3 separate regions of the Homo sapiens genome follow, and all the other regions are linked to region 2. The links come from fine-mapping of genetic effects on gene expression. A gene starts in region 2. Each other region holds a variant in brackets. All regions are shown on one strand. Distances are between the middles of the regions.

The links. PIP is the estimated chance that this variant, and not a neighbour inherited with it, causes the effect. A credible set is the group of variants that fine-mapping cannot tell apart.
Region 1: its variant is the best candidate, but not a certain one, in a credible set for the expression of CPNE7 in visceral fat (GTEx, PIP 0.65).
Region 3: its variant is the best candidate, but not a certain one, in a credible set for the expression of CPNE7 in whole blood (TOPMed, PIP 0.57).

The regions. Positions count from the first base shown.
Region 1 is chr16:89,115,965-89,123,549 of GRCh38, reverse strand. ACSF3 (acyl-CoA synthetase family member 3) reads right to left here. Exons shown (of 11, transcript NM_001243279.3): 7 at 2,637-2,749. Among named protein-coding and RNA genes, the nearest start is that of ACSF3, 26 kb to the right of the region's middle. RefSeq lists an enhancer at 4,735-5,029 and a silencer at 4,735-5,029. The variant T/C (reference allele first, on the strand shown) is at 3,858.
Region 2 is chr16:89,571,605-89,579,189 of GRCh38, reverse strand. It overlaps CPNE7 (copine 7), which reads right to left and starts at 3,432. Exons shown (of 15, transcript NM_153636.3): 1 at 3,119-3,432; 2 at 1,469-1,651. The coding sequence starts at 3,292. RefSeq lists silencers at 3,969-4,038, 4,279-4,508, 4,969-5,226.
Region 3 is chr16:89,599,376-89,606,282 of GRCh38, reverse strand. No RefSeq gene overlaps it. Among named protein-coding and RNA genes, the nearest start is that of DPEP1, 11 kb to the left of the region's middle. RefSeq lists an enhancer at 5,836-6,749. The variant G/T (reference allele first, on the strand shown) is at 3,240.

The sequences.
Region 1 (7,585 bases), 460 kb after region 2:
CCACGCCTCGGCACAGACAAGAGTGGATCGGACAGCCCAGCTGTCGGCCACAGCCTCACTTGAGCCACGTGGATCCGGGACCGTGGTAGTGAGGGGCACCCTCGGGTTCTGGGATGCTGTGGAGAGAAGGGCTACTGCGTGAGACTCAGATGAAAGTACCAAGTGCGTCTGCGAGTGTGAGCGTGGGGTGGGGAGTCCCTTCACATGAGAGAGCAGCAGGTCTCTGATGCTGGGGCTTTTCAGAGTTCACAGCGCCCATCATCACCTGGTTGTCCTGGGGCGCCCACCCACCCCTCTGGGAGCCCTGAATCTCAGGTGTCGGAGGGCACAAACCCTGAGGCCCTCAGGCTGTGCTCCTCCCCACGAAGGGTCTTGGCCCCTGGTGGAGCCAGGCCCCGCAGGGCAGCTGTACTCCACCTGCTGCACCGACTCCTTGGCTGAACTGGAAATGTTCCCGGGCCTGCTGTCAGCAGATGCAAACCCCCCGTACGCTGAGATTTAAGCAGCCCCAGAGCATCTGTGCGGCTTCACCTTGCAGGGTCTGCCTGCATGCCTGTCGCAGAGGCCCCTGTGCGGTGTCTCTGACTGTCAGGGTGCCCAGGTAGCTGAGGCTGCTGCTTCTATTTCAAGACTGCTTCAGGGAAGAAACCAGCAGACACAAATAATTAAAGAAACTCAGGCAGGAGCAATCAGGTGGCGCGGCAGCCAATGCAGGTGTGAAGCAGTTAAGTTTTGTTTTAATTTAAGACAGAAATGCTCCCCACCCCCGCTCCGCCCCTTTCTCTGGCAACATTTCTGCCATTTCCGGCAGAGCAGGTGCTCAGAGGCAGGAGTGTCAGCTGACTGACACCTGGAGAGGGCTGCACAGCCACGGGGCGTCTCACTCCTCCACACGCCACTCACGTTCTGCTCTCTGCTGGGGACATTTCTGACTAGATGGTGTCCCCAACCCAGGCACAGGCTGAGCCCCGTCCCTGCAGACAGGGTTGGAACTGGCTGAGCTGGGAGGTCCTCGAGTTGGGGGCAGGGGCACTGCAGGGCACAGACTTGAGAGCCAGGAAGGGCCGGTGTATTCAGGAACCTGAGATGTGGGGTGTGGCCAGCAGCCTAGTACCAGCAGGGCAGAGGCAGGAATCCCAGGAGAGGCATGTCAGGACAACAGCATGGGCTGGGGCCCTACAGAGGGCAGGGGAGGTGGGTATAGCAAGGGGCAGCCACCCAGGTGGGTTTCAGCAAGTTGCCCCATGGCTCTGTGGGGGCCACAGGGATAACAGCCCACTGCGGGGGGCCCAGGCCAGGCGGGACACACTGTGCGGCCCTCCACACAAGGTGCGGCCACTGCAGGTGGCCCCAGGTGAGAGGTTTCCATGGGGAAACAGAATACCCACTTCAGGGCCACGGGGGATAACAGCCCACTGCGGGTGGCCCAGGCCAGGCGGGACACACTGTGCGGCCCTCCACACAAGGTGCGGCCACTGCAGGTGGCCCCAGGTGAGAGGTTTCCACGGGGAAACAGAATACCCACTTCAGGGCCACGGGGGATAACAGCCCACTGCGGGGGGCCCAGGCCAGGCGGGACACGCCGTGTGGCCCTCCACACAAGGTGCGGCCACTGCACCTTTCAGTGTCATTTAATGACACTGAAAGCCACCCACATCCTACTTGGTTGCTGGAGCTAAAACGTCCAACCACGACCATCGCTCCAACCCTCACGTGGTCATGTGTGGAAACCAAGGTACAAGGAGGGCGTGTGGCTGTTCACTCACGAGAGCAAGGCCCACGGCCCCTCAGCCTCTGCACAGGGAGCTCAGTTGTGCCCGTGAGGGCCAAGATGGTGTCACAGAGAAGGAAATGCACAGAGATGAGACTCAGGATCCCTCGATCTTTGAAAACCTCAGGGCAACACAGTCAATCATGTGTGGTATCAGGTGTGGATACTGGCTTCAGAGAAAATAATTTCCTTTTAAATCAAGATTCCATTTCCCCATAATCCCTAAACCTTTCTCTGTGATGAGTTCACGTGTGATGAGCAGACTCTCATGTTAAAATCCTCACAGAAATGAGACAATGTCCTTTGTTCTTGTTCACCCTTGTCAGCTTTAGAATAACGCACAAGACAAGGAGGCAGCCACAGAGCACTGCACAGGCACCCACCTCCGCGTGCAGGGCCCCGTGAATCTCCCCACACCTACTATGGGGGCCTGTGGTCAGCGTCCCCTCAGGACGGGTGCCAGGGTCAGGCCAGTTCATATTTCTAACCAGATTCCCATCAACAACAACGGCCTCTGCTCTTTATCTCTTCCGCTTAGCCAAGGCCATCATGGCCCACGTCAGCCTGTCCCCGTGGACAGGGCCCCTGGGAGGAGCTGTGTGCCCGGGTGTGAGTCCCTTTGGCGTTCCGCCCTGGGCTCCCTCTGCCCACTGCTCTGTGAACGCACAGACGGACACGCAGCAGGCAGGGCCCAGAACACCAGCCAGTGCCCTTGCAACACCAGCCAGCACCTGCAGTGTCCAGGGGGCTGGTCCCCTGCGTGGAGGGGAGTCTGCCTCCAGGGGAAAGATGCACCAGTGTAACCACCCTGGGGGGCCTAGACTGGACACACGGCCGCCCACCTGCCAAGAGCAGAGTGGCTTACCTTGGTCCCCCTCTCGTCTCCCTCTGCGTGGATGGTGTAGGAGCAGGCTTCCCTCTGTGGGTTTTCTGAGACAATGCGCACCTGTACTCCAGGCAGTGGGGTCCCCACGGAACCTACAGGAGAGGAGAAACACTGAAGGGGAGGCTGGAGTGAGAGGAACCTGGAGGAGAGAAGCACACACTGAGCTCGGATCCCGCTGAGCTCCCGTGTGCCACGTGCGGGAGTCTGTGTGGAGGGAGCGACGTGCCCTGTGACCCAGAGAGAAGATGGTGTAGGCACCAGCAGGTGAAAAGCCACACGATACGTGGCTGGCAAGCACGGTGTGCTCAGGCCCAGCCGATGCCACAGTGATGGCCATGTGGCACAGCAGGCACTCACGTGGCACGCTGGGCCTGGCCTGCCCTGGGCCCCTCATACATCACTTTCCCAGTTACTTCCCAAAGCCTCACAGCTGCCCACAGATTCTGGTGTCATTCCCACTTTTACACACTTGCTGGCCAGGGAGGGCTGGCGCCTTGCCCTGATGGCCCCGGGGCTGTCCACGATGAGGGGACCTGTGTGTGCCCGGCACACGACGGGCTAAGGCAGGATCTGCCCTATGTCCCCAGGAGGGGCTGTCCTGAACTCTGCATGGCAGGTGGACCACACTTTGTACTGGCTCATTTATTAGACACCCATGATTTGCTCAGTGTATCCATCCCACCTGCACAGTCTCAACGTGGCTAAAATCATATCTTACACTGGCCGGGGTGGGGGCAGAGCCCAGGTGGCGAGACGTGTCCCGCCGGCACACGCAGGGCTGCCGCAGCCTCGCTCTGCCTGTGGTTTAGGTTGCTGGTGGGACGGCAGAGGCTGCTCATGGAGTGCGGCCCTGGCGATGTGGCGTCAGCACGGGCATGACCTAGGGGCAGAGCAGACGTGGGACTTCCTGTCTATCCCGGGGCGTGAGGCCTTTGCCCTGGCCTGCGTCAGGGGAGTGCCTGAACGCTTATCATGTCTGAGTCCACGCTGAGATTTCCGGCACTTCAAGGGTCAGCATCGAGGGTCAGTGCAGTGAACTCTGCAATCCATGGGGCGTCCCGGCCTCCAGACGCTTGGTGAGGGGCTGTCGGTGCCCGGCTCGGTCTTGCTGATCCTGCTGGGCCTGTCCACACCTGGGGTCCTGCAGGCGAAGCCGGGCTAGTGTGGTGTGCGGAGTGTCACCTCGGGAGTTCTCTGTGG[T/C]TCCAGGTATGCAGACGCCCCGAACCTCCACTCTGGTCAGAAACCCGTGTCACCACTATGGGGGGTGTGGCGGGGCCAGCTTCAGCCCCCTTTCTTCCATCCTTTCTCCTCCTTTATGTTTTGCTTCTGAAGATTTTTAAATGGGGGTGAAACCCGCATAACACATGACTTCCCATTTCAGTGCGCGGCACGGCGGTGTTCCGCACACACATTGCACAGCCCCCCACTTCCCCTAGTCAGAACTCCCGCACAGCCCACGACCGCCACACCCTCCCTCCCCAGACCTGGCACCAGGTCTGCTGTCCGCGTCCGTGGTTTTTCTGTTCTGGGCGTTTCATAAGAAGAGGACCATCACAGGCGGCCTTTCGCCTCTTCCTGGTGATGCCTCTACTGGGGCGGGGACGCAGCGCAAGGACACGGCACGGCTGGGGTAGGGGCGGGGGCCGCAGGTGGGGAGGCCGTGTGGCCGTCCCACACCATCTGCAGAGGCTGAAGAGGCTCTGGGATGGTGTCTGGATTCTGCAGCAGCCAAGCAGTGGTATTGTCCATGAGAGCTCAAGGAGTGGCCCCCACACTCCAGGTGCCGCCCGTGAGAGCTTCAGGGAGGGGCCCCCACACTCCAGGTGCCACCCATGAAAGCTTGAGGCAGGGGCCCCCACACTCCAGGTGCCACCCGTGAGAGCTCGAGGGAGGGGTCCCCACACTCCAGGTGCCGCTCGCTGTGCCCCGGGCATGTGACAGTGTGGACATGAGAGCTCAAGAGAGTGGACAGAGGCTGGCCCCGCAAAGGCCAATGTAGATGGGAGCGCAGCTGCAGGCAGGTGGGGGGCACTGCCTTCCTGCCACAGCCCACCTCTAAAATCGCTGTCAGCCAGCCCCTCCCTGATAACTCTGACTGGGGACTGGGACCCAGGGAACGGAAACCGCCAATGAGGCCCTGGAGCTCCCTGTCAATGCCACAGAGTGGCCCAGGAGCCGTGAGCACCTCTGAGCTCAACCTCCAATTAGAGTGTGACGAGGCCCAGCAGTGGTCGGCCATGAATTATTCATCTCCCTCCACAGGAACCGCACGGAGCAGGCCTGTAACCATAACACACGACAGAGCTCACCCTCCACCCAGCTTCTCTCTCTTCCGAGCACGGACAGTGCACTGAGCAGCGAGGCCAAGCATGAGCTCAGAGCCTGTGGCTGGAGCCGACCCAAGGGTCAAGGCCATGGCCACCAGGGTGGGGGTTAGAGCCTGAGAGTGAGGAAAGCTCTCCTCCACCGTGCCCTCTAGAAACATGGCTCAGGAGGCTGCATTTTGGAGTTTTTGTGGGGCATATTGGATTTAATGCTGAGGTGACTTTACTTACTTTTTTCCAAACCAAAGAACTCACACTGCTGGTGATTTAAAGGCAAGGATAAAATCACAGATATTTGATTCTGCCTTAGAGAAGAGGGAGCGTCCCCGGCGCCCCAGGGAAACTGCCGTATGCTCTGCCTTAGAGAAGAGGGAACATCCCTGGCGCCCGAGGGAACCTGCCGTCAGGCTCTGCCTTAGAGAAGAGAGAGCGTCCCCGGCGCCCGAGGGAATCTGCCGTGGGCTCTGCCTTAGAGAAGAGAGAGCGTCCCCGGCGCCCGAGGGAACCTGCCGTGGGCTCTGCCTTAGAGAAGAGGGAACGTCCCTGGCGCCTGAGGGAACCTGCTGTGGGCTCTGCCTTAGAGAAGAGGGAATGTCCTTGGCGCCTGAGGGAACCTACTGTGGGCTCTGCCTTAGAGAAGAGGGAGCATCCCCGGCACCCGAGGGAACCTGCCGTCGGTAGCTGAAGACTCGGGGATTGGTGCACTCAGGTTTCTTGCCCAATAACCCTGAAGCTTCAGGGTCTCTGGATCCCCCTCCTCAGCCGGGGACTCCTCTCCCTGTGCCATCTGTCTGGGGCTCCTTCCTGTTCGCCTAGGAGTTCTGATTCCAGCGTGGGGAAGCTGAGCCTCCCCTGGGTCTCTGGGCTACTATCTGCTCCTTGGCGCCCTCGGTGTGGACGGCGGTCCCTGGGCTGCTCCTTGGCGCTCTTGGTGTGGACGGCGGTCCCTGGGCTGCTCCTGACGCTCTCAGTGTAGACAGTGGTCCCTGGGCTGCTCCTGACATCCTCGGTGTAGACAGCAGTCCCCGGGCTGCTCCTGACTCCCTGGGTGTAGACAGTGGTCCCTGGGCTGCTCATGACTCCCTCGGTGTAGACAGTGGTCCCTGGGCTGCTCCTGATTTCAGCTTCTCAGCCTTGTATCTGTTCCAGTAAAAAAGGCTAGGGGGGCACTGTCCATCTTCTCTAGTGAGGGCCATTGAAGAGGTCACCGTGCTCCTGGGAAGTGCATCACTCACCAGCCGCGTGACCGTGGGCAGGCTCATGGGTTCTTGTATGTGAGTGCAAAATATGACCCCATCGCAGGGGCTGTTTCGAGAAGATCAAAAGAGAGGACGCCCACAAAGCAATGCTGTGGATGAACAGTCATCATGAACTACAAACTGTGCAGACAGATTCTGAATACACAGAACTTGTCCTGCTCACATGTCCGGAACAAAGAGAGGACAAAGCCCAGAGCCCGTTACCCTTTCAGTCCTCACTTGCCTGCAGCCTGCAGCCTCAGCGAGCCGGGCTTTGCTCATTCCGTCCATATTACGTGGTGACTGTGGCCGGTGGCACTGGACAAAACCAGCACATCCTACTAAGAAGGACAACGATAAGGACAGAGACTCAACAGACCAGTCACATTTGATTTCAAGGTCCCCATCTTATTTCCACCAGAGAGCTTTAGCCACCGAAGAAACAGCTGGTGCCGCAGCCATCGTGGAGATGCGCGAGTCAGCCCAGAGCAGGGGCCGCTAGCACTGACGGAGGTGGAGGTTTCCTGGGGTCTGAGACTAACGCGGGAGCCGGCCCAGGGCAGGGGCCACCAGCACTGACGGCGGTTTCCTGGGGTCTGAGACTAGGATGTATTTCTCATCACTCACACTGACTTCTTTTCACAACATGCCCCCACCCGCCCACTGCCCTGGGCACTGTTGCAGCAGGCACTGCACTCTGTGCGGCCACCCCACTGGCAGCTCTGCACGGCAGCTGAGGATCTCGCTGCCATGGCCCTGTCATTCTGCTCAGGATGCCCCAGCCAAACCGAGACTTTACACTCAGAATACACTTAACAGCCCCCATGGCTCCCCAGGCCCAGCAAAGGGGCGTGAGCCTACAGTCTCTCCTCCTCCCAGCCCAGCAGCCAGCCAGCCCTCACACTCACCTTGCAGGCCCCAGCACCGTATCGCTGCCTGGCACCAGCTGGTCCCTGCCTGGGCCTGAACCCCCATGTCCACGCTTACCCTAGAGTCCCAGGAACCAAGCAGGCATGGAATGAGCCAAAGGGCACACGGAAAGCAATGGGACAGAGCAGAGCCCAGGAGCCGACCCCTCAGGAGTCGACGGACTTTCAACAAAGATCCAAAGGGCTGTTCGATGGAGAAGGGAGTCTTTTCAACGAACAGTGCTAAAAAGTTAGACATTCACACACTAAAAAAGAACTGTGGTCCGTATCTCGCACTATGTACAAACATTAACTCAAAATGGATCATGGTCCCAAACGTAAGAGCTGAAACTATTCTCTGTGACTTTGGGCTACGCAAGGATTTATTAGATATGACATCAGACAATTCACAAAACAAATTGATAAACCGGGCCAAAACCTAAAACTCCTGATTTTAA
Region 2 (7,585 bases):
CTCCCCAGTAGCTGGGACTACAGGCACGCACCACCACGCCTGGCTAATTTCTTTTCTATTTTTAGTAGAGATGGGGTTTCATCATGTTGGCCAGGCTGGTCTCGAACTCCTGACCTCGTGATCCCCCCACCTCGGACTTCCAAAGTGCTGCGATTACAGGCGTGAGCCACCGTGCCCGGCCTGTAAATTTTACCTCAATAAAAAAGAAGGACCCGTCCTGGCAAGGTGTGAGGATTCCGTGCAGCACAGGAAGTGCTTAGCGCAGTGTCCAGCAGGGCCCAGCACATCAACAGACACTCTCATCACGACTTGCAGAAGCCACTTTTGGGCTGGCTGTGGAGGCCGTAACCCAGAGAGCATCACCAAGGAAGCAGTGGCCACCGTAGGACCTGCTGCTCACAAGGAGGCTTCTTTTTTTTTTTTTTTTTTTGAGACAGAGTCTCAATCTGTCACTCAGGCTGGAGTGCAGTGGTGAGATCTCCACTCACTGCAACCTCTGCCTCCCGGGTTCAACCGATTCTCCTGCCTCAGCCTCCAGAGTAGCTGGGATTACAGGCACATGCCACCATGCCCGGCTAATTATTGTACTTTTTGTAGAGATGAGGTTTCAGCATGTTGGCCAGGCTGGTCTCGAACTCCTGACCTCAAGTGATCTGCCCGCCTCGGCCTCCCACAGTGCTGGGATCACAGGTGTGAGCCACCACGGCCGGCCACCAGGAGACTTTTAGGTGCTGATATGGAGGGGCTGCTGCACGTCGTGGAAGTGAAAACGCAGGATGCAGAACAGGGAACGTAATTTGTGTATTTTTGAAAAAAGAGGAAAAGTGGGCTGGGCACCGTGGCTCACGCCTGTAATCCCAGCACTTTGGGAGGACAAGGCAGGCGGATCACGAGGTCAGGATTTCAAGAGCAGCCTGACCAACATGGTGAAACCCCGTCTCTACTGAAAATACAAAAATTAGCCGGGCGTGGTGGCGGGTGCCTGTAATCCCAGCTACTCAGGAGGCTGAGGCAGGAGAATCGCTTGAACCCAGGAGGTGGAGGTTGCAGTGAGCCGAGATCACGCCACTGCACTCCAGCCTGGGTGACAGAGCGAGACTACATCTCAAAAAAAAAAAAAAAGAAAAAGAAAAAAAAGAAAAAAGAGGAAAAGTGATAGGCTGGTTTGCTCCTGTGAAAATCTCTCTCTGGACAATGTCCAGGGACCTGGCAGCAGCTGGATGGGGCAGGATGGAGGCGCTCCACAGCCTTTTATACCTTCAGGCTTTAAAACATACGAATGTATTACCCAGTTCAAAATTACATGTATATTTTAATCTAATAATGACTGTTCAGGAGGAGCTGAGGAGGGGGCAGAGCCAGGTTGGCCACCCCAGCAGGGTCCCTGCGGTGCTGGTACATCAGCCTTGAATCGGCTGTGGCCCCCACGCCAACCGTCCTCCTCCCTCCGAGGGGACGGGGCACCCACCTGCCCCAGGGTGCACTCCATGCCCCCCAGGAAATCGTCCTCCTGACAGCTGAAGCCGCTGGGCCCATGCGTGTCGTACACCTCAAAGCGCAGCCTCTGCACCTCCTCGAAGTAGTAGTCCACCGTGAAGACCTTGGAGAACACGGGATGCAGGCTGCTCCGGACCACCTCGGTTCTGCCCACCTGCAAGTGCACCTGTGAGCCGACCCCACTCCAGAGGCTTCCACCCCGGGCTCCAGACCTCCATCTCCCCTCTGCCGCTCACCCACGCCCAGGTACCTCAGGAGGACTCATACCCTGGGAAGACCTCCTGCCTGCTCTCTGTCCATGGGACCACAATCCCGAGGGCCACCCTGGGGGTCACCCCTGGCCACCACTGTCTGCTCCACCCTCAGATCACAGATGGGGAAAGTGAGGCTCACAGAGGACGAGAATGACACGCTGAGTCGGGGGCGAGATCAGATTCACACCCTGGGCTGGGCAGCCCTAAAGTGCAGGCCGCTCCCCAGCACCAGCTGAGTGGGGAGGGGGCGTAGGGTACAGGGGGGCCCTCCCTCCTGGCTGGGGTACCATGGGCTCACCAGCCTCTCCCATCCCATGCAGTTCCCTGGTCCAACTGCCCCGTAAGGACAAGACCCAGCTGGGCCAGTAGGCTACTCATTTCAGAATCCTGAAAAATCCTGCACCTCAAACCAAGGGCAAACATGGGCCACCCGTACAGCTCACGCTCTGAGGGTGCGGGCACGAGGCCTCCGTGGGGATGGTGGGCTCGGGATGTGAAGGGTGGGCTCAGGCTGTGAGGGGCGGGCACGGGGCCTCCGGGGGCAGCCGGAACCCTGGGGACAGGCGGTGAGGGCGGGGCAGGCCCTTCACCCTCAAGGTGGATGACCGGAGACGCCACCGGGTGACCGCGTCCCTTCCACCGCCCGAGCAGCCGCCCGGGCCCGCGCTGGAGCCTGGAGAGACCCCTGCGCCGGGGAAAAGCGCTGGCGCCCCGCGCGGACTGGGGTTCGAGTTCCGGCTCCTCCGCCCGCTGCGGCTTCGCGCCATGCGTTTCTCGCCCTTTCGAGGTGAAGCCACGCGTTTCACGCGAGATGGTGACCGAGGAAGCGCCCGTCTGGCGCCGGCCCCGTGCCCCTTCGGACCCCAACCGCGATCACAGCGGGTTCGCTTGAGACCCACGTTGGAGCGGGAGCCCCGGACGCCTGGAGGTCCGCACCCCAGCGCGCGCTCCCTCGCCGGCCTGCTCCCGCCCAGCCTCCCGCCCCCCGTCGGCCGGCGCCCCTCACCCCTCAATCTCCTTGCGCCTCTTGGTCGAGCCCCCTGCCCGCGCCTCATGCCTGGGCGCTTCACTCTGGCCCGGGGCCCCCTCCCCGAACCCTGGGCCGCACCCCTCACTGCGGGGCACCCCCCTCTCTCCTCCGAACCCCGCTCGCCGCCACCTCCTCCAGCCCAGCCTCTCCCCACAGCTCTGGACACCCCACCCCCAGACCTGGTAACCCCCAACCCTGACCCCGAGCTGAGCCCCAGCTCCGGGGGGCCCCGCCTTGCGCCCCACTGGCCTCAGCGCGCCCGCTCTGGTCTCCGCATCCCCAGCTCGGCGCCAGCCCCGGCCCGGTGGCCTCTCGGCCTCCCACGCCCCGGCCCTACCTGCACCCACTGGCCCTGCGCCTGCTGCAGCAACGCCACGCTGGGGTCGGACTTGGTGAGCGGGTCGCGGTCCAGCAGGTGCCGGCAGCTGAGCCGCAGCTCCACCTTCGAGGCGCAGGGCGCGGGCAAACCCCCGGGGGTTGCCGCCGCCCCGCGCTCCGAGCCCGCGCTCATGCTCCCGGCGTTCGGGGGCCCGGCTGGGCGCACTGAGGGGCCGCTGCCCGCGAGTCGGCGCCGCCGCGGCGCCCGGGAAATGGTGGCCGGCCCAGGCGTGGCCGCGCTTCCCTGAACGCCTGCCGGGCGCGGGCGCACGTGGCTCGGGCGGCCGCCGCGCGGGGACTGCAGGGGGTGGGGCGCGGCCGGGGGGCGGGGCCGGGGAGGGGCGCGGCGGGAAATGAGGGCAGGGGGCAGAGGCAGGGGTGCCCCTCGGAGATGCCCGGGAGGAGACAGCTTCTAATTCCCCGGGGACCCCCCCCCCAACTGATAGCTTTGGGGTCAGGTCGGGCGCGCCCTCCCCGGCTGTGCGCATCCCCGGCCCAGGGACCGGCTCCGGGCTGGAGGCTCCGAGCTGCGCGGGGCCTGAGCCCGGGTTCGGACCCAGGCAGACACTAGGGGAGGCAAAAGGGGGACCCCAGCTTGGCACCAGATCCCCGCGCCCTTCCCGGATCTCTAGGATCCCATTTCCAGGCTCCGCTGGTTTCGGGTACTCGCCACCTCCATCAACAAGCATTTAGTGGGCGCCTGTTGTGTGCAGGCGCCGCGCTCGTCTGGGGCTGGAAGGACCGTCCCGGGGGGCCGAGGGCTGAATCGCGGTCTGATTCCGAGGGGTCCGCGGGGCACGGTCCACACCAGTCCCCCGAGGCCGGGGCGGGGCGGGGCAGGCCTGGGTTCCGTGGGGGGTGGGCCCGCTCCGCCCTGAACTCACTCCCCCACCTTCCCCATCACCGGTCCCGGGGGAGGGAGCAGCGGAAGAGGAGGCGTCGGCGGGGACAGAAACCACCTCGCAGTCCACTCTTTTTGCCGATTTCTGCCTAAAAATAGGGCACGGACCTCGCCAAAAGCCACGGGGGTGGGGGGCGAGGGTGAGGGAGACATTAAGACTGAAGAGGCGGGAAGACCGGGCGCCTCCGCTCAGCCTCGGCGATCAGGACTCTAGAAGAAGACCCTGCGGTCAGAGGGGACCGCCGCCGACAGGGCGAGGAGGCTCAGGGCCCCGCCGGCGGGAGGCAGCACAGGCAGCCTCGGCCTGGGAGGAGGAACGCGGCCAGCGGCGTCCCCTCGCGGTCGGACGGCGGGATGGCGCCGGGCGCGGCTGCAGGGCGGGGAGGCCCCACGGGGCTGGCAGGGCCGGGAGAGGCCATGGAGACCGGCTCCTGCCTTCCCGGGAGGTTGGCTAAAGAGGCGAGGAACAGGTCAGGGCGCAGCGAGGCCTGCAGGGCCCCATCTGCTGTCTCCCCGGCCTCTGCGCCTCCTCCCTGAAGCCCGCAGTGGGCAGAGGCCAGTCCCGCTCTCTAGGGACCAGTCTGGGCCTTCCCGGCCCTGTGTCCTCCTCAGCCCAGCCTTCCAGGCTGCCGGGAGGCCACATCCTCGGTCCCCAACCACTTCCATGGGAAAAGGATGCGAAATTCAGGCAAAGGGTGCGGGCGCCCAGGCAGCTCCTGCAGGCCGTGCCTCCCGCTCGGTTCCAGCAGCCCTGGGACAGTTTTCCCCAGACCAAGCTCCGCTTCCTGCCTTGACCTCACCCGAAAGCTCCTCACCACCGCCCTGAGGTTTGCTCGTCTGCAGTGTGGCGTGAGGCCTGAGGTCCACCAGGCTGTCTGAGGGGTACCCGGCTTAAACCTGGAACACCCCAGTTCAGCCCTTGGCTGTCACATAGCGGCACCCTGGCAAAATAACAGATGGCTTCCAAGCAAAGGACGCAGGGAGCCAAGAAAGATCACAGAGTTTGGGAATTTGAGTCTCTGAAGCCCAGGGCGATTTGGGATCTCCAGCCACAGCCCTCGGCCGGCTTGCTGTCTCCTGACTGACAGCCCTGACTGCAGCCTGCTCTAATGGAGAGAAACCACAGAAGGAAAAGCCGATTCCCCTGTGGCACTGGTGTCTGGACGCTGCCTGCCCCTGCTCAGGGATCAGCCCGCAGTAGGCCCAGGTACAATGGAAGGACCCCGCAGGCCATGTGGAGCCATCTTTCCAAGGCTCCCCCTCCCAGCTTTCCCTGCAGGGCCAGACACAGGAAATGAGATCCACACACATACACGCAGGAATAATAACCGTGTTCCTTGTTGAAATATTAGACAATGCAGATAGGGAGTAAAAACAAATTTCCAGACCCCAAAGCAGCCCATCACCTCCCCACATCTAACCCTCCAGGTTTTTTTTTTTATGTGCAAATTTCTTTTAATTGTCAAAAAAAAAAAAAAGGTGCCTAACTCTCAGAGCCCTTCCCACACTTGAGAGGACTCTTCAGTATCTGCACGCCAGGCTCATCACGCGGGCCAGGCCCGGGACCCCACGCCAGGCTCATCACGCGGCCCAGGCCCGGGACCCTGCCTGGCACGGTTGGAGCACCATAGGTGTTGGTGCAGATGGTTTCTGTTCTGTAACCTGCTTTTTTCTTTCTTATTGACAATATTGCATTCAATGGTTAGCCTGGATCCCCTCATCACTGGGTTACCTATGAGACCCTCTGATTAGTGCCGACCCCCACGGCTATCCAGAGGCTTACACATGATCAATTTTAGGAGCAGCAATGACATATCTGTGCCCAAGTGCCCTGTGTGGCTTCCTGGCATCCAGGACTCAGATACTTTTCAGGCCCAAGTGCCTCTGCCTCAGCCTCTCCCACCACCCGACCCCTACCTACCCTGCAAAGCCCAGCCCAGTCTGAACCGCCACCCAACATCCCTCCCTGGGCTCCCGGCCCACACGTCCACAACATCAGTTCCACTGTCCAGGGCTGTGCTGCCCATGACCTCATCCACCCTGGACCAGGAGTCCACCGAGGCCTGAGTTAACACCAGTACAGGTCCCAACACAGAGTCTAAGACAACAAACTCCAGGCGGATGAATGAAGTGCGGATCAGCGAATGAAACGCAGCTCTGGTGGCTGCTCTCTGGTCCTGGATCTGCCTCGAGGGTGTCATCTCCATCAGTCACAGAGTCCCCATCTCCCATTTCAGTAACACTGGCCACGAGGCCAACCGGGAGCAGGGAAACCTGTCCAGGGCCTCCAGAGGTTCCCGGCAGACCCCAGGCCCACTGCTACTGCCTTGAGGCACATCCCCTGGAGCCAGTGCTCTCCCCCACACTCTGACAGCCCTTTGTCCCTGAGCCAGGTCCAGAGTCCATGGCCTCCTCCCTGGCCGTCCTGAGCACACAGCTGGTGTGCTCCAGTGGACCGGTCCGGGGCTCGGTCCCCACCCCTGAATGCAGGGTCCTCGAACCTGCCCTTCATGTGGAGAGATTGTCCCAGAAGTTGCCTCAAAACAAGAAATTGCAGAGGGTGGGGGTTACTAACAGGATTGTTTAACAGGAAACAGCTCTCCACGTGTCCGGATGGGTGCTGCTTTTTTTAATCTGGTTGCAAACCTACCCTCTTCTTTTCTTTCCTCCTAAAGAAAGGTTATTTTATCTTAGAACATCTGCAACCTGTCTGGATCAGATTGTCTTCCTGCAGGATCTGATGCTGATCTTATTTGAGAAATCAACCATGCCCAGAGGCGGCCACGCCGGCTGTTGGCTGAGACAACACACCTGGCCAGTCTCAGTTCCTCGCTGACCTTGTTACAGCCTCAGAGACCTGGGGACTGATTAGGGGGACTTTCTCCTCCACCACACTCAGCACATGCAGGCACGCACGAGCACACGCCACACACGTGTGCCAAATACCGCAGACACGTGCACGTACTCATGGAGAGACAGCCCACACGCAGACACGCCAGGCACCCAAGACACACAAGCGCAGACACAGGCCACCCCAGGGCAACATATGTTCCAACCAGGGGGTCCCCTTCCTCCACTTCCTTCCCCCAACACCGTCTTCTGGGTGTGGATGAGACCCCCTTCTTCGAGACTCCCTTCTCCTCCAGGCGCGTTCTCGCGTGCAGCCCCGGGCCGCCATCCCTCCTGCCCCTTGTCTGCATGCAGCCAGGAGCAGACCATCCCAGCCCCCAGCATCTCTGCCCAGCAGGAGACACCACTGCTGGCGGGAGACATGGCTCAGAGAGGGCGTTGTGGTGGCTGAGACCACACAGCAGGGGTGGAGCTGGAACCCAGAACCCAGCTCAGAAGCCAGCGCTCACACCTTCCTCGGCCCGTCCAGGCCCTGGGGTGGAACTGGAACCCCGCTCAGAACCCAGCCCTCACGCCTTCCTTCGCCCGTCCAGCCCCCGGCGTGGCTTGATGGCTTTGCTGCCCTTGCCCAGAATGTTCCCAGCAGACCCTCAGGAGCACTTACTGTGGAGGGGC
Region 3 (6,907 bases), 27 kb before region 2:
TCCCCGCCCCCCGGAGCCTTCTGACCCAGGTTAGTCCAATCCCATCCCTCCCCACTCTGGCCTGCCCCTGCCTTGGCCACCACCTGCTCCTGGGCTTCGTGGCACAGATGTTTCCAGAGAGGAGCTTTCTTGGCACGGCCGGTGGAGGTGACGTGGTGGTGAGTGCGGGGACTCGACCTCAGGCACCTGGGCTGTTCTGCCGTCCTCCCTGGAGGCAGGGGAAGGGGAAGGCAAGACAGCATGAGGACTGATGGCAGGGGCTGCCTGGGAATCCAGACCCACCCCTGCCTGCGGGAGCCCCCCCTCACACCAGCCCAGGCCGGGCAGCTGCTACGTGAAGATTGAATGGAGGTTTTTGCCTGGGAGGTGAGGACTGTGGCAGAATCTACCACGGCCGCCCCACCGTGGCTCTGAGGCTTCTGGGAGGGAGACAGGTACTCCCCAAGGGCCCTTCCCACCGGAGGCCCACGCATCCCAGCCACGCCCGTTTGCCACTGAAGAGCAGACTACAGGGACCGTGGGTGGTGCTGGCAGCGGAATCCCACAGCCCCGGGGCCAGCGGGTACTTGCCCAGAGCACCGTCTCTCTCCTGCTGAGGAAAGGCCTTCCCTGGCCAAGGCGGCAGGCAAGGCTGACGAGGGCTGAGGCTGGTCCTGGGAGGGCACCTGAATGTGGGCCTCTGCTAGTATTTAACGGTGGGGATGGCGGAGCTGGTGTCCACCTGCTAGAACCTGCCTGGGCCTCTGGTAGGGCACGTGTGGATAACAGACCCCCCCACGGAGCCCTCCGGCTGCACTCCCTGCCTGCGCCACCCGGCAGGCACTGACCCACAGCAGAGGACGCAGTAGACAGGGACGTGGTCCAGGCCATCACCTGCACCTGCTTGCCAGGGAACATGCGCGCCCAGGAGCCCTGGCAGGACGCACGTAACTTCCAGTCCCAGGACACCGACGTCCACCTGGTGACATTGCCCAAGTCAGGTAAGGTGCGGTGGCTGGGGCGAGGTCTGGGCAGGATGGCTCACACTACACCATCCACACTGCCCCAGCAGGCCTCAGTCCCCCCAGACACTGGGGACTGAACCCCACCACCCGAACCCCCTTGCAGGCACCTGTGCAGCCCATGGGAGCCCAAGGGCTGCCTCTCCGGCCTTGTAACAGAACGGCCTTCCAGACAAGGGAGTACGTCTGCCGTGGTCAATTTCAGGCACCAGTCAACACCTGGGGCCTCCGCAGAGCCTTCATGGTCTCCTTGGCAATGCATCCCACCAACCTGGCCGCCTAGGCCCGACTCCCCAGCCGCAACGTCCTCACCCAGGGCCACCCGCAGCCGCTGCTCCCCACCCCACCCGCTCTTGTGTGTCTGTTGGCCCACAAGTCTGTCTGGACTTTTGTGTGGACACCGATGTGTAGCTGTGTGTCTGCAGGAAGGACGTTAACTGGGTGTGGGGATCATGTAGGGTGTATGTGCACAGAATGGGGGGTCCCGGTGGGGACGTGGGGTTCCACCTATGGCTGTGAAATGGAAACTTTTTCAGCTGTGGCTGCCTGAGGAAGGCCCTGTGTGCCCAACCTGAGGCCCTGGCTTTCACCCACGGGATGAGGAGAACAGTCCCTTCCAGCCCTGGCCTCCAGCCCTCAATGCTCCCCTCCAGCCCCCAGTGCTCCCCTCCAGCCCCCACTGCTCCCCTGCAGCCCCCAGTGCTCCCCTCCAGCCCTCAGTGCTCCCCTCCAAACCCCAGTGCTTCCCTCCAGCCCCCAGTGCTCCCCTCCAGTCCCCAGTGCTTCGCCTCCAGCCCTCAGTGCTCCCCTCCAGCTCTCAATGCTCCCCCTCCAGCCCCTAGTGCTCCCCTCCAACCCCCAATGCTCCCCCTCCAGGCCTCAGTGCTCCCCTCCAACCCCCAGTGCTCCCCTCCAGCGCCCAGTGCTCCCCTCCAACTCCCAGTGCTCCCCTCCAACTCCCAGTGCTCCCCTCCAGCCCCCAGTGCTCCCCTCCAGCCCCCAGTGACCCCCTCCAGCCCCCAGGGCTTCCCCTCCCACCCCCAGTGCTCCCCTCCAGCCCCCAGGGCTCCCCCTCCAGCCCCCAGTGCTTCCCTCCAGCCCCTCCAGTGCTCCCCTCCAGCCCCCAGTGCTTCCCTCCAGCCCCCAGGGCTCCCCTCCAGCCCCCAGGGCTTCCCCTCCAGCCTCCAGTGCTCCCCTCCAGCCCCCAGTGCTTCCCTCCAGCCCCTCCAGTGCTCCCCTCCAACCCCCAGTGCTCCCCTCCAGCCCCCAATGCTCCCCTCCAACCCCCAGTGCTCCCCTCCAGCCCCCAGTGCTCCCCTCCAGCCCCCAGTGCTTCCTGCCAGCCCCCAGTGCTCCCCTCCAACCCTCAGTGCTCCCCTCCAACCCCCACTGCTTCCCTCCAGCCCCCAATGCTCCTCTGCAGCCCAGGGCTTCCCCTCCAGCCTCCAGTGCTCCCCTCCAGCCCCCAGTGCTTCCTCCAGCCCCCAGTGCTCCCCTCCAGCCTCCAGGGCTCCCCTCCAGCCCCCAGGGCTTCCCCTCCAGCCCCAGGGTCCCCTCCAGCCCCCAGGGCTTCCCCTCCAGCCCCCAGTGCTCCCCTCCAGCCCCCAGGGCTTTCCCTCCAGCCCCCAGGGCTCCCCTCCAGCCCCCAGGGCTTCCTCTCCAGCCTCCAGGGCTCCCCTCCAGCCCCCAGGGCTTCCCCTCCAGCCCCCAGTGCTCCCCTCCAGCCCCCAGGGCTTTCCCTCCAGCCCCCAGGGCTCCCCTCCAGCCCCCAGTGCCCCCCTCCAGCCCCCAGTGCCTCCCTCCAGCCCCCAGTGCTTCTCTGCACAGTGGGATGATAATGTACTGTCCTGGTGGAGTAATGGGGCACCAAGACCTTGCACGTCACTTGCTCCACCTGGGGTCTGGATGCTGACTGCCTGGGATGGGGAGGGCTGGCAGTGTGGCCAAGTCCCAGTGCAACTGGGGCTCCTAAAGATGTTTCAGTAAAGCAGTGAGGACCAACACCCCCACTCCAGCCTCTTCCACATGCACAGGGCAACACATCTACACCTGTGCACACGTATGCACCCATACATCCATGCACACACATGCATGCACACACATGCACACATGCATACATGCCTATGCACACACAGAGCAACACAGATACACCCATGCACACATATGCACCCGTGCATCCATGCACCCACACATGCCTATGCACACATGCACGCACACATGCCTAACAGACACACATGT[G/T]CTCAGCCAGGACCTAGGGGCTCCAGGCTGAGTGCTGGGAACCCAGGGGCCAGACCCAGCTCGCCACCCTGCCCTGCCTCCCCAGCAGTGCACCTAGGGTTTTTCTGAGGTCGGCCGTCCCGTCAGTGAGATGCACTCACAACAGTCAGCCAGGCGGGGTTGTTGTGGGAACTTAGCTCAGTGAGTACTGGAATACTCAGTACTCCTGGGCTGTGGTGGGTCTTGATGGGGTGAGGGGAGGGAGGCACCAGCTGGACAGGGGTCCTGGGTGGGCTCTGATGGGGGTGGGGCCCCAGTGCAGGGACAGGTGAGGCGTGAGGTGGCAAGGAAGACAGCTTTCGCCCACGGCCCTGCTGTGCCAGGGGCCGGCGGTACTCCTGTCTGACAGCCCTGCCACAGCCCCCGCACCAATTACAAGCACTTAGTCACAACTTCCTGCCTGTACTCGCCTCGGCAGCAGGAGAAAGAACAGCCTGGACGCTGAGCTGCTGCTCTTCCCACTCCCTCCAGCTGCCCCCCCCACCCACCGAGTCAGAGCCCTCATCCGACTCCGCGCATGGGTGGGCAGGGGTTGACCCCGCGTCCTCAGCCTGTGAGGCCCAGGCAGCCGGTGGCCAGCAAGACAGGGTGGGGGATGCTCAGCAGCTGTGATTGGTGGTTCCTGAGAATAAGGAGAAGCCGGCTCCCCTTGTGAAACTGACACCTATTTATCCAGCAGGGGCTCCTGCATCCCTCGTTCATTCCTCACAAGATCCCTGGGAAAGAGGATGTGTCTGTTACCTCCTGCCCTACGACTCATCACGCCCAAACCGAGTGGCTTCGAACAGCAACCGTGGATTAACCCGGGCCACGACCTGGGTCAGGAATCCACACGAGGATTTGCCGTGTGGCTTTGGCTCAGGCCTCTCGTGAGGATGCAGGCAGGGCATCCTGCCCGGGGCTACAGGAGCTGCTGGAGGTGGTGCACTCGCATGGTGGCCCCTGGCACTGGCTGCCAGCCGGGAGCTCAGCTGGGGTGCGGGCGCTTGAGCTTCCTCGCAGCATCGTCAGTTTCCCGGGAGCCACATCTCCTGAGCACGGGAGCAGCGCCCAGCATTCTTACCGTGGGGTGTCAGAATCCACGTGGGGGCCAGGCACAGTGGCTCACGCCTGTAATCCCAGCACTTTGGGAGGCCGAGGTGGGTGGATCACTTGAGGTCAGGACCAGCCTGGCCAACATGGTGAAACCCTGTCTCTACTAAAAATACAAATAAAAATACAAAAATTGGCCGGGTGCGGTGGCTCACGCCTGTAATCCCAGCATTTTGGGAGGCTGAGGCGGGTGGATCACGAGGTCAGGAGATCGAGACCATCCTGGCTAACACGGTGAAACCCTGTTTCTACTAAAAATACAAAAAATTAGCCGGGCATAGTGGCGGGCGCCTGTAGTCCCAGCTACTCGGGAGGCTGAGGCAGGAGAATGGCATGAACCTGGGAGGCGGAGCTTGCAGTGAGCCAAGATCGCACCACTGCACTCCAGCCTGGTCGACAGAGCCAGACTCCGTCTCAAAAAAAAAAAAAAAAATACAAAAATTAGCCAGGTGTGGTGGCACGCGCCTGTAATCCCAGCTACTTGGGAGGCTGAGGCAGGAGAATCACTTGAACCCGGGAGGCGGAGGTTGCAGTGAGCTGAGATCCCACCGCTGCACTCCAGCCCGGGTGACAGAGCGAGACTCCATCTCAAAAACAAACAAAAATAAGCCACATTGGACCGAAGTCTTCCTAGGTTCAAGAAGAAGGAACATAAACCAACTTCCAATGGAAGGGGCTGAGGAGTCTAGAGCCATGTTTCAAAGCTGCTATATCCGCGTGACAGGCAAGGAACAAGGCTCTGACTCACTGAGACTGTGATGGCTTGTCCAGGGTCACACAGCGGGAGCTGGTGTCCAGCTTGACTGAGGCTGTTTCCAAATCTCAAATCCACCCCCGAGGAGGAGCTCCTCCGCCTGCTGCAGGCAGTCCCTGGACTGGGTCCCATGGTGGCCCTTGCTGTGGGGTCCTGGCAGCTACACACTTTCTGCTTCTTATTTGGGAAATAAGTCCACATCCAGGCAGGTCATACCCAGGCTATTCTCAGCAAGGGTCAGGCTCTAATTCGAGGTCAGGAGGGGCTGAAGACTCAGGGAACCCATTGGTCTCACCTGGGGGTCTCCACACCGGCCGGCAGGACCCCTGACTGCCCTGCCCTAGGGGCCCCTCTGGGTTTCAGAGCCGGATGTCACACCCCGGGGAGGAAGATGCCTGACAGGTGGACCTACAGGAACTGCAGAACTAGCATCTCAATTCCTAGGACTCAGCCTGGAGCCTGCAGGTCCCGGCTAAGCACGTGTCCGTGTGGATGTGTTAGGCATGTATGCACATGTCTGTGCATGGATGCGTGGGTGCACGTGTGCGTGCGTGGATGTGTGGGTGCGTGTGGGTGCATGTGTGTGCATGGATGTGTGGGTGCGCGTGTGTGTGCACAGGTGTATACATGTTGCTCTGTGTGTGTGTGCACACCAGCTACACAAAGCTAGCACCTCTGCTTCTGACTGGCTGTGTGACCTTGGGCAGGGCACCTCACTGTGCTGAACCCTGATTTTCTTGTCTGTGAAAAAGGAGCATCTGTCATCCTTTTGGGGCAGGATCCTTGGGTGGCAAATGACAGAAACCCAGTCCCACCTGAGCTAATCAGAAAGGGAGCTCATGGCTCCTCAATGGGAAGTATCGGCTCAGGAGCAGGCCTGACAGGAGCAGGCCTGAGCATGCACCTGCCACCAGCTCTCTGGGTAGTGTCCTTCCCAGGCAGGCCCTGCCCATGTGACCCCGCTAAGTGGTCACTGTCCACAGCTCCTCAAGCCAGGAAGAAACAAGGGGTCCCAGAACTGAGTCTCACGGGCCAGCTTGGGGCACGTCCATCCCTGGAGCAAGCACTGTGGCCAGGAGGCAGCAGCCCCTGCCTGGCCAGGCCTGGATCCTGTGTTCATCCCAGTGACCCACGGGGTTAGGGGGAGAAGTCAAATTATTATTGCGTGCGTCTCTGAGCAACGTTGGGCTGCTTTCTCAGGCTGGGAATTGCTGGCGAAAGTCACATTCTCAGAGCTGAGCTGGCAGACGCCATCCTGTCCCTGCTGTCCCTCGATGGTCTCAAACACACCCCAGACACCCAGCAGCACAGAGACCAGGGTGGCCCAGCCTGCCCACTGGCCTGACCCCAGGGCTGCTGCCTTCTGCCATGGGAGGACGGCAGGAGAAGAGAGGGTGGGAGGAGGGGGCTGGGGTGCTCACAGCCACTCCCTGCTTGCTCCATAGGGGTCTGGGAGTGGCCACATCCCTGTAAGGCAGCAGTTCTGGGAAGGGACACACTCCCTCCAGGGCGCCAGCTCACCGAGTGACCTGCCCATCCCTGTCTGTCTGAGGTCAGCTCCCTGGCGCCCCACTGTGGCCGCCCCAACCCTGTTCTGAGGTAGACTCCTCGGCACACCTGCTTCCTGCTAAGATCTCAATGGACCAACACCTCTCGACTTTGAGTCAGCCCAGAAACCGTCTGACACTTTCTGGCCCAAAAACCACAGGCAGGTGGCACAGGGCACCAACACTCACCCTCTGTCCCAGCCCCTGAGACCCCCGACCCGCTCAGGGCCCCAGCC